3 linked regions of the Homo sapiens genome follow. The protein of the gene in region 1 interacts with the protein of each later gene in a biochemical or structural test. Each region holds a gene or a part of one and is shown in the gene's direction. Other genes may lie near its edges.

Evidence for each region.
Region 2: the proteins of SCTR (region 1) and SNTA1 interact in a test that uses a peptide from one of them, tested with the Homo sapiens proteins (one study listed by BioGRID).
Region 3: the proteins of SCTR (region 1) and ADCYAP1 interact in a test that uses a peptide from one of them, tested with the Homo sapiens proteins (one study listed by BioGRID).

What each region holds. Positions count from the first base shown.
Region 1 is NC_000002.12:119,444,428-119,448,084, reverse strand, and holds part of SCTR (secretin receptor precursor), read left to right. Parts: intron 1-1,199; coding exon 1,200-1,326; intron 1,327-3,657.
Region 2 is NC_000020.11:33,433,710-33,437,366, reverse strand, and holds part of SNTA1 (alpha-1-syntrophin), read left to right. Parts: intron 1-3,657. UniProt on the Homo sapiens protein: Adapter protein that binds to and probably organizes the subcellular localization of a variety of membrane proteins. May link various receptors to the actin cytoskeleton and the extracellular matrix via the dystrophin glycoprotein complex.
Region 3 is NC_000018.10:907,829-910,386, forward strand, and holds part of ADCYAP1 (pituitary adenylate cyclase-activating polypeptide preproprotein), read left to right. Parts: intron 1-436; coding exon 437-535; intron 536-716; coding exon of another isoform or gene 717-762; exon of another isoform or gene 763-1,604; intron 1,605-1,617; coding exon 1,618-1,807; 3' UTR 1,808-2,558. UniProt on the Homo sapiens protein: PACAP is a neuropeptide involved in diverse array of physiological processes through activating the PACAP subfamily of class B1 G protein-coupled receptors: VIP receptor 1 (VIPR1), VIP receptor 2 (VIPR2), and PACAP type I receptor (ADCYAP1R1).

The sequences.
Region 1 (3,657 bases):
GTCCCTCTGTGTGTCCATATTTCCTCTTCTAAGGACACCAGTTGATTTGATTAGGCCCCACTCCATCCTTGTTGTAACTTAGCCTCCTCTTTCAAGACCTTTCTCCAAATGCAGTCACATTCTGAGATACTGGGGGCTAGGACTTCAGTGTAAAAATTTGGCAGTGGGTGTGGACATAATTCAGCCCATAAATTATATTAAAGACAAATTAGCATCCAGGCGCGGTGGCTCACACCAATAATCCCAGCACTTTGGGAGGCCAAGGTGGGCAGATCACTTGAGGTCAGGAGTTCGAGACCAGCCTGGTCAAGATGGTGAAACCTCGTCTTTGCTAAAAATACAAAAATTAGCCAGGCGTGGTGGAGGGCGCCTGTAATCTCAGCTACTCGGGAGGCTGAGATAGGAGAATCACTTGAACCTGGGAGGCAGAGGTTGCAGTGAGCCGCGATTGCGCCACTGCACTCCTGCCTGCACAACACAGCAAGACTCTGTCTCAAAAAGAAGAAAAAAACAAAACAAAAACAGGACAAATTAGTGTCCCCCAGAGACCTTCTCCATGGTGTTTCGTGTTTTGAGAATCTGACAGTGCCTCAGATTACTTGGTGTCAGATTCCTGGGGACCTGGGATAAAGTTGCCAGGTAAAATACAGGATGCCCAGTTACATTTGAATTTTGGATAAACAACAAATCGTTTTTCAATATTTATACCCCCACATGGTGTCCATTGTTTATCTGAAATTCAGATTTAACTGGGGATTCTGTATTTTTATTTGCTAAGTTTGGCAACCCTAATCTGGGAAGAAAATACAAGAATTTGTCCCTACAGATATTTATTATCTAGCAAATGAGAAAGCCGGCTTTGCTTGTATGATGTTAGACATAGAGCAGCAGTGATATAGGCACGTAATTTATAAATAAAGTTAATGGTGTAGGTACCGTTTTTTTTTCTTTTTACTGATGGAGGTGCATGATCAGAAAGTTTGGGGCTTTGCCATGAGTCAAAAATTGTTGTATCTGAGTGATGGATATGAGGGAGTTAGAAACTTTCAAAATAAAAAATGAAAACAAAAAAGTTTGGGGTACTGCTAGCCAGCCTCAGCAGTCAGTCCCGAGCTGGGGAGTGGCACAGCTGTGTGCCTACAGGAGGAGAAAGGGCGCAGGGAGGCAGAGTGGAGGCTACAGGCTTTCTGTGTCCCCAGGCGCCTGGCCAGGTCCACTCTCCTGCTGATCCCCCTCTTTGGCATCCACTACATCGTCTTCGCCTTCTCCCCAGAGGACGCTATGGAGATCCAGCTGTTTTTTGAACTAGCCCTTGGCTCATTCCAGGTAAGTTTCCAGGACTGGGGCTGCCAGCTGAAAAGAGGAGTTCTCTGTGTCCTTAGGGAGAAGTGGAGGGCATAGAGACTGCGAGCCAGATGCCTTATCTGGCAGAGACCCAGGGGAAGAAGGGGTCGGACCTGACAGTGCTACAGGTCCCTGAGTGGGATCCCTGGTCCCCACCAGTCAAATGGGGGTGGGAGATAAAACTAAGAGAGACAGAGAGACTGACTTCAGGGAAAATAAAAAGGAAAAGTAGCCCCAGTACACTATATTGTACAACTCTCAATAACATATACATGGTCAAAATAACGTAAGCGCGGATGGCCAAGTCATCAAACACTGGGGCGGGAAGATGAGCCTCGCGGGAGCGTGGGGCGGGTGTTTGGAAGAGAACACTGTCCTCATCTTCACACTGGGAAGTCCATAGAAAATGCCCTAGACTGAAAACTCCTCAAGTGGCGACACCAGCATATTTTTTAGAAGCAGTTAAGAGAGTTTCAAGGAGCAGTCGCATGTGAGGAAAAGGAAGTGAGGGTGGGGTGTCAGGAGGCTGCTGGTTCTGTAACAGGAATCCTTTGATTCTCTGAAACCATGTGCATATGCAAATTATTAAAACTAAAAACTGACTTTAAAAAATAAAGTGAGGTGGAAAAGCGCTTACCTACTAATTCCACAAGATGCTGTGAACTTAAAAACAACAACAGTAAACGTGTTTGGGCAGAGGGAGCCTGAACGTGAATCCCAAACTTCACAATGCCGTTTGTTTATTTACTCATAGCTATTTCCTTCCAAAAATAATGCAATGTCGCTTTTGGGAAAAACATACAAAGGACAAAAAATAAGTCGATGAAGGATCAGTGAAAAAAAGAATGTACAACTGGTTGGGTTGCTACACAGAAACAAATACGATAAAGTTCTATACAGGAGGGAGAGATGGGTCATAAGTATGATAGGGAGCTTCCCAGTAGCCAAAGCAAAGACAAAACAATTGTTTCAAAATTTCGCATATCCATAAGACAAAATCAAACTAACGGCCGGGAGAAGCCAGTGATTATAGGCTCTAGGCCTGAGACAAAATTCTCCCAGTAGTTTTTTTTAAAGGACTTAGTCCTTAACGACATTTCCACGGTAGGGCGATATTGTCCAGCCAAGCTTTCACTGGGGTGGCCTCGGCCTGCGAGCAGGGGTTCAAACCCTCCCCTCATCCCTAGAGCTCTGTTCAGGGTAGGGTCTTCCTGTTACTTACAGGTTCTAGGGAGGATGCCTCACTGGGGACACATCACTGAGTGGAGTCAGGTCTTGCCCTACCCATACCTTCAGACCACACCCTCCCCTAAGCTGGCCCTCTACCCAGTAACCCGTCAGTGCCCCAGACCTCCAGAGAACTCAGCCTCTGGCTTAATCCAGGATTCTTTTCCTCTCGGCCTGGGGGCCAGGGAGCTAGCTTTCCTCACCACTGCTCTTGTAACGTCCAGGGAGGCTGGGCACACAATGGCCCATCTAGCAGGTAGAGGATTTGAGGACCAGTCGGGTGGAAGGACTTGACCTGGCTCAGAAAAGGGACCATGCTGAGAGCTTGGACCCGGGTCTGCCTGGCCATGGATGGGGACTTCCTGTCCCTCAGAGTTGGGGCTAATGGTTGGGACTGTGGACTACTTCTCTAGGAAAATGTCTTGCCAAGAGAAAATCAAAAGCACTTTCCTGATGTTCTCATACGAATGTTGATGAAGAAAAAGGATCTTTTAAAGTTTTATACATATATATGTATATATATTCGTACGAATATATGTATATATATTCGTACGAATATATGTATATATATTCGTACGAATATATGTGTATATTCGTACGAATATATGTATATATATTCGTACGAATATATGTGTATATATATTCGTACGAATATATGTGTATATATATTCGTACGAATATATGTGTATATATATTCGTACGAATATATGTGTATATATATTCGTACGTATATATGTGTATATATATTCGTACGTATATATGTGTATATATATTCGTACGTATATATGTGTATATATATTCGTACGTATATATGTGTATATATATTCGTACGTATATATGTGTATATATATTCGTACGTATATATGTGTATATATATTCGTACGTATATATGTGTATATATATTCGTACGTATATATGTGTATATATATTCGTACGTATATATGTGTATATATATTCGTACGTATATATGTGTATATATATTCGTACGTATATATGTGTATATATATACGTACGTATATATGTGTATATATATACGTACGTATATATGTGTATATATATACGTACGTATATATATGTGTATATTCA
Region 2 (3,657 bases), on another chromosome or scaffold:
ACCCTCCACCCCCCGGGGCTCAAACAATCCTCCCACCTCAACCTCCTGAGTGGCTGGGACTACAGATGCATGCCACCACACCTGGTTAATTTTTTTTTTTTTCTGAGATGGAGTCTCACTCTGTTGCCCAGGCTGGAGTGCAGTGGCATGATCTCGGCTCACTGCAACCTCCGTCTCCCGGGTTCAAGCAATTCTTCTGCCTCCGCCTCCTGAGTAGCTGGGATTACAGGCACCCACCACCATGCCCGGCTAATTTTTTTATTTTTAGTAGAGATGAGGTTTCACCATATTGGCCAGGCTGGTCTCAAACTCCTGAGCTTGTGATCCACCTGCCTCAGCCTCCAAAAGTGCTGGGATTACAGGTGTGAGCCCCTGCGCCTAGCTTTTTTTTTTTTTTTTTTTTGAGATGGAGTCTTACTCTGTCGCCCAGGCTGGAGCAGTGGCGCGATCTTGGCTCACTGCATCCTCCGCCTTCCAGGTTCAAGCGATTCTTCTGCCTTAGCCTTCCGAGTAGCTGGGACTACAGGTGCGCACTACCACGCCTGGCTAATTTTTTTTTTGTATTTTTAGTAGAGACAGGGTTTCACCATATTGGCCAGGCTGGTCTCGAACTCCTGACCTCGTGATCTGCCTGCCTCGGCCTCCCAAAGTGCTGGGATTACAGGCGTGAGCCACCACACCTAGCCAATTTTTTGTAGAGACAGGGTTTCACCATGTTGCCTGGGCTGGTCTCCAACTCCTGGGCTTAAGGGATCCTCCCACCTAAGTCTCCCAAAGTGCTGGGATTGCAGGCCACAGTGCCCAGTCTAGATGCATTTTTTTGATACTTAAAAAAAGCTGACTCTAGAGTGTTGATCCTTAGAAGCTTAAGTGTATCAATCATATTTTAATGGCAAAGTTAAATAATAGAATGCCACATAAATGATATGGATATAAGAGACTTTCCCCACATGCCTCATTACTTTGATATTTATAGTCAGCAATGCGGTTTGAAACCACTGACATTCATCGAAATGTCATATTTTAGTTGACTTGAAAGCTCTTTTAGCTTCTGTTGTTTGAAAGTTTAGTCTATGGTAAAATTTCTGCTATAGACACAATTCAAATCCACATTCACACGGAGGTCCCCTCACCTCCTCATCTTTATTTTTTATTTTTATTTATTTATATTTTTGAGACAGAGTCTTGCTCTGTCACCCAGGTTGGAGTGCAGTGGCGGGATCTCGGCTCACTGCAAGCTCCGCCTCCCGGGTTCACGCCATTCTCCTGCTCAGCCTCCCAAGTAGCTGGGACTACAGGTGCCCGCCACCACGCCTGGCTAATTTTTTGTATTATTAGTAGAGATGTGGTTTCACCGTGTTAGCCAGGATGGTCTCGATCTCCTGACCTTGTGATCTGCCCGCCCCGGCCTCCCAAAGTGCTGGGATTACACGCGTGAGCCACCGCGCCCGGCCCACCTCCTCATCTTTAGATTAAAAATGTATCTATCTGGGTTCCCATGTATGTCGTTTTGAGAAGGTAGTATCTGTAAATGTGTGACCTTGAAGCATCTTCTGACTTTAGGAGTGAATACTCAAGCCTTCCCTCTAACTCATGTCATGCATTCCTCCTCACTAAGCCAAGAGACATTCATGGACATCTACTGTGTGCCTGCTGTGTATATTAAGGTCAGAAGCTAAACTACACCCAGGGCCTCTCCTGAAGGAGCTCACCATGTGGTAGGGTAGACAAAACATAAACACTATCTCCTCTACACAAACTGTGTTTTTTTCTTGAGGCAGGGTCTCACTCTGTTGCCCAGGCTGGAGTGCAGTAGTGCGATCTCAGCTTACTGCAACCTCCTTCTCCCAGGTTCAAGCGATTCTCTGCCTCAGTTCTGTAGCTGGAATTACAGGTGTGCACCACCACGGCCTGGTTAATTTTTGTATTTTTAGTAGAGACAGGGTTTTGCCATGTTGGCCAGGCTGGTCTCGAACTCCCGGCCTCAGTGATCTGCCTGCCTGGGCCTCCCAAAGTGCTGGGATTACAGACGTGAGCCACCATGCCTGGCCTACAGAAACTCTTTAAAAGCCGGTGGCTAGGTGCTGTGACTCACGCCTGTAATCCCAGCACTTTGGGAGGCTGAGGCGGGTGGATCACCTGAGGCCAGGAGTTTGAGACCAGCCTGGCCAACATGGCGAAACCCCGTCTCTACTAAAAATACAAAAATTAGCTGAGCCATGGTGGCGCGTGCCTGTAATCCCAGCTACTCAGGAGGCTGAGGTAGGAAAATCTTGAACACGGGAGGCGGAGGTTGCAGTGAGCCGTGATTGTGCCGCTGCACTCCAGCCTGGGCGACAAGAGCAAGAATCCATCTCAAAAAAAAAAAAAAAAAAAAAAAAAAAGCTGGTGCCTGAAATCCTGTCTGCTCTGCAATAAATCTCTGTTTGGCCTTGGGTAAGACCCTTGCCTTCTAGGGGACTCAGTTTTCCTATTGAAGTTAGGCTAGATCAGAGGTGATCAATAGCTTTTATTTAGAGTGGCAGCTCCAGGCAGGCGTGGTGGCTTACGCCTGTAATCCCAACACTTTGGGAGGCTTAGGTGGGCAGATCACTTGAGCCCAGGAGTTCGAGACCAGCTTGGGCAACACAGTGAGATTTCATCTCTGTAGGAAAAAAAAAAAAAAGAGTGTAAGCGTCAGCTCCACTGGTGGTTCTGTGAGTTCCATATTTGGAAGGATTGGGAGGCTTTGTCTGGGCTCAGCAGAAAGGAGCTGGAATTGATTAGCAATGTCTACTACAGATGCAGTAGAGAAGTAACATGTGTATCATCCCAGGACTGAGGGGCCCCTGCTCTTATATTCTCTGAGATGTTTCACAGGACGAGATCATTCCTTGGTGAACCCTGCCTATGGCCTGGGTAAGAGAAAGAAGAATGTGGCCTTCATGTTTTTCCCCACTTTTCCTTAGTTGAAGTCTTTTTCGACCTATTCTCCTGGCCCAAGATCTCATGGAAGGAGGTCATTCCACTCAAGATAGCACAAAGAGGGGAGGAGGAGTGGTGGAAGGCACTGGAGTCAGGAATCTCTGAATGGCAAGAGTGATCAGAGAGGTCTGAAGGATAGGAGGATGCTGGGCTGTGGCTGGTCCTTGAGACTTTGGGGAGTGGAGAAGGTCTGGGCCTGGCAGTTGCACCAGTCTGGAGCAGCCAGGGTTCCTGGGACCCTCTCTGGGCCTAGGTTTCCCCGGAGTTGAATCACTGACCACATTGTTCAACATTTCCCCACTCACATCCCATTACTGAGGACGCCTCCAAGGGGCCATGGAAGGATGGCCTGTCCTTTGGATGTGAACTTGGCAAGGCAACTGGATATTTTTCCAGCTCAGTGGATAGTGAATCCCCTGAGGATGTCCTGGGAGAACAAGCATTACCAGCAAACTCCAGGTGTCAGCTAGAGCCTTACTTCCCTGGCCTAAGTTGGGGGCTCAGCTGAGCCTCAGCAACCCCAACCTGCCTCCTAGAACATTTCTTCTACTAGGTCAGGGGTTTGCAGAAATGTCCTGATCCTGTTCTCAGCCAGAGGGGTGTGTTTGTGACCACAGTCTGGGCCCAAGTTGGCAGCCAACAAGTGTCTGTCCGCTGCTTCGAGAGGCCCGTTGTGTGTGCAGACCTCAAGCC
Region 3 (2,558 bases), on another chromosome or scaffold:
AGCTCGGGACTGCGGTGACGGGAGGGGCAGTGTGGTGACCCACCCAGGATTTTTTTTTTTTTCCCGTGAAAGTCCTCAAGCCTGTCCTCTCCCTGGCCCGATCCTATTGCAGCGACAGAAAATCAGCAGCGGGCGGGTCTGTGTGGACCTGAGGGCCGCGTGGGGACCGAGGGGGGCTGTGGCCCAAAGAGTGGCAGTGAGTGGCGTCAAGGAACCCACACTCCGCATCTGCCACTCCTAGAGCCGGGACTAGCTCCCGATCCTAGCAGTTGCTCTCGAGATCATCCCGGGAGTTATTGGCGAGTTCTGGGCCTCTGGAGGTTTCCCTGTCAGCCTCCCCGGCCGCCGAGGGGGCGCGCGCCCAACAAGGGGGTCTCTAGCGGCCACCTGGGGACAGAAACAGTGACCCTGGGCGCGCACTTTGCCTCCCCGTTAGAGATGTCGCCCACGGGATCCTTAACGAGGCCTACCGCAAAGTGCTGGACCAGCTGTCCGCCGGGAAGCACCTGCAGTCGCTCGTGGCCCGGGGCGTGGGGTAAGAGTTTGTGGAAGGATTAACCTGCGCGCGCCGGGGTGGGTGCCTGTGCGGGGCGCGCGGGGCGGGCGGCGGTGGGTGCCCGTGGGGGCCAGGGTGAGTCTGCGCCCCTGGGTCTGGGGTGGGCATCCGCCACGGGTCGCAGTTGGAGATTTTGAAGTGGCACTTTAAATTTGCCCAGAGAGCTCTGGAAGAGGCAAAAAGGGAACGCGAGCCAGGGAGTTTGATCCGTTTTGAATGAAAAGAAAGAGAAACCAAACCAAACCTCTCAGTCATCCAAAACCTTCAGGCTTCCAGGGAGGTTTTGCTATAATTTTCTCTAAGCATGACTGTTTCTGGGGGAGGGGAAAGGGGTGGTTGTATTTACTGAAAATTCAAATCGAAATAATAAATGGCCAAATGTGGACACTTATGGACCCAAACAGTTTTGCTCACGCCAGAGAAACTGAGAGCACAGGGCTTGTGTGAAGCCTATCTCGGCAGAAGGCAACATTCTAATAAAGCCCGTGGGAAAACAGATTACATTTTCGCCATGAATAAGTCATGCAGTGAAAAATATTGCCTACAGCCTGTCGACTTATATTATTATCACGTTTTTCAACTCGGCGTGAGGAGGGAGAGGAGTGTTCATATTTGACTAGGAATTGCAGGATCGATGCAAACTCCAGGGCAGCAGCCAGACTGGCATATGTAGGGCTCTCCGGTTACTTTCTCTGTATGTCGCGGGTGAGAGGAACAGCGAGGACAATTTAGCGCAAACACACGAAGGGTCGGATCTCAAGGGGGCAGCGCTGGGAGAAAGGTTAGGCTTGAAGCGCGCGTCGCCTGCCCGGATCTTATCCCGGGCCCCCTCCGCAGGGTTTGGTGCCAGGAGATCCTGCGTGGGGAGGGGGGCATCGAGGGGCTGCCGTCTCGGCCCTCCCCACGGCTGCTTCCAGGCAGAGGCGGGCGACGCGGTGGGCAGTGCGAGCCCCGGGCCCTCCCCGAAGGCTCCCGCGTGGGGTGGGGCCCGCCTGCTCCCCGCGGCGATTGAACCTGTGTCTCCCGCCCCGCCACCCTCTTCCCGACCCCTTTGCTTGCAGTGGGAGCCTCGGCGGCGGCGCGGGGGACGACGCGGAGCCGCTCTCCAAGCGCCACTCGGACGGGATCTTCACGGACAGCTACAGCCGCTACCGGAAACAAATGGCTGTCAAGAAATACTTGGCGGCCGTCCTAGGGAAGAGGTATAAACAAAGGGTTAAAAACAAAGGACGCCGAATAGCTTATTTGTAGCGATGGGTTACCAGCTACCCTGTGTATACAGCCCTGACGCAATGAAAAGTCGTTTTCCAAACTGACTCAACAGTCATCGCTCGTGTGTTCTATCCAAACATGTATTTATGTAATGAAGTAAAGCCATTAAATGAATATTTTGATAATAATATTGTTTTTCTTTCTACAAAGCACTAGAGAATGCACAGATATACTTTGTGGACCAATTATTGATATATATTATAAATATATATAAAGAATATATATATATATATATATATATATATATATAAAGTATAGAGAGAAGTTCATACAAAGCGTGCACAAGGATTGAAAATTCGCCCGAGCTGTTTATGTTTTTATAAAAATAAATAGAAAAGTAGACAATCATTGTTTTGAATATTACTCCTATTTTTGTAAACTGGAATTAAAAGGATAGTATTTTTATCCATGACAGGCCTGAAGATATTACTACTTACCATTTGCTACTGTACATAAACAATGATGCCCTGCTCCAGGGAGATTTTGAGGTAAAGATATGGAGAATTGCTGAAGGGCATTCTTTCCCAGTGAGTCTCTGGGGCAGGCTGCTTCAATCCCAGCCTAACTCAACTGGGCTCTGTCCCCCTGGTTGGGTGGCAATTCCAATATTTCTGCTTTCTTTGATTCTCCTTTTATGTGTAGTTGTCTCTCTTCAGACTCTCAGCCCAGAAGAAAATTCTCCTGATAAAACAACAGCTCGATCCAAATTGTGCTTCTCCCCAGAATTCAC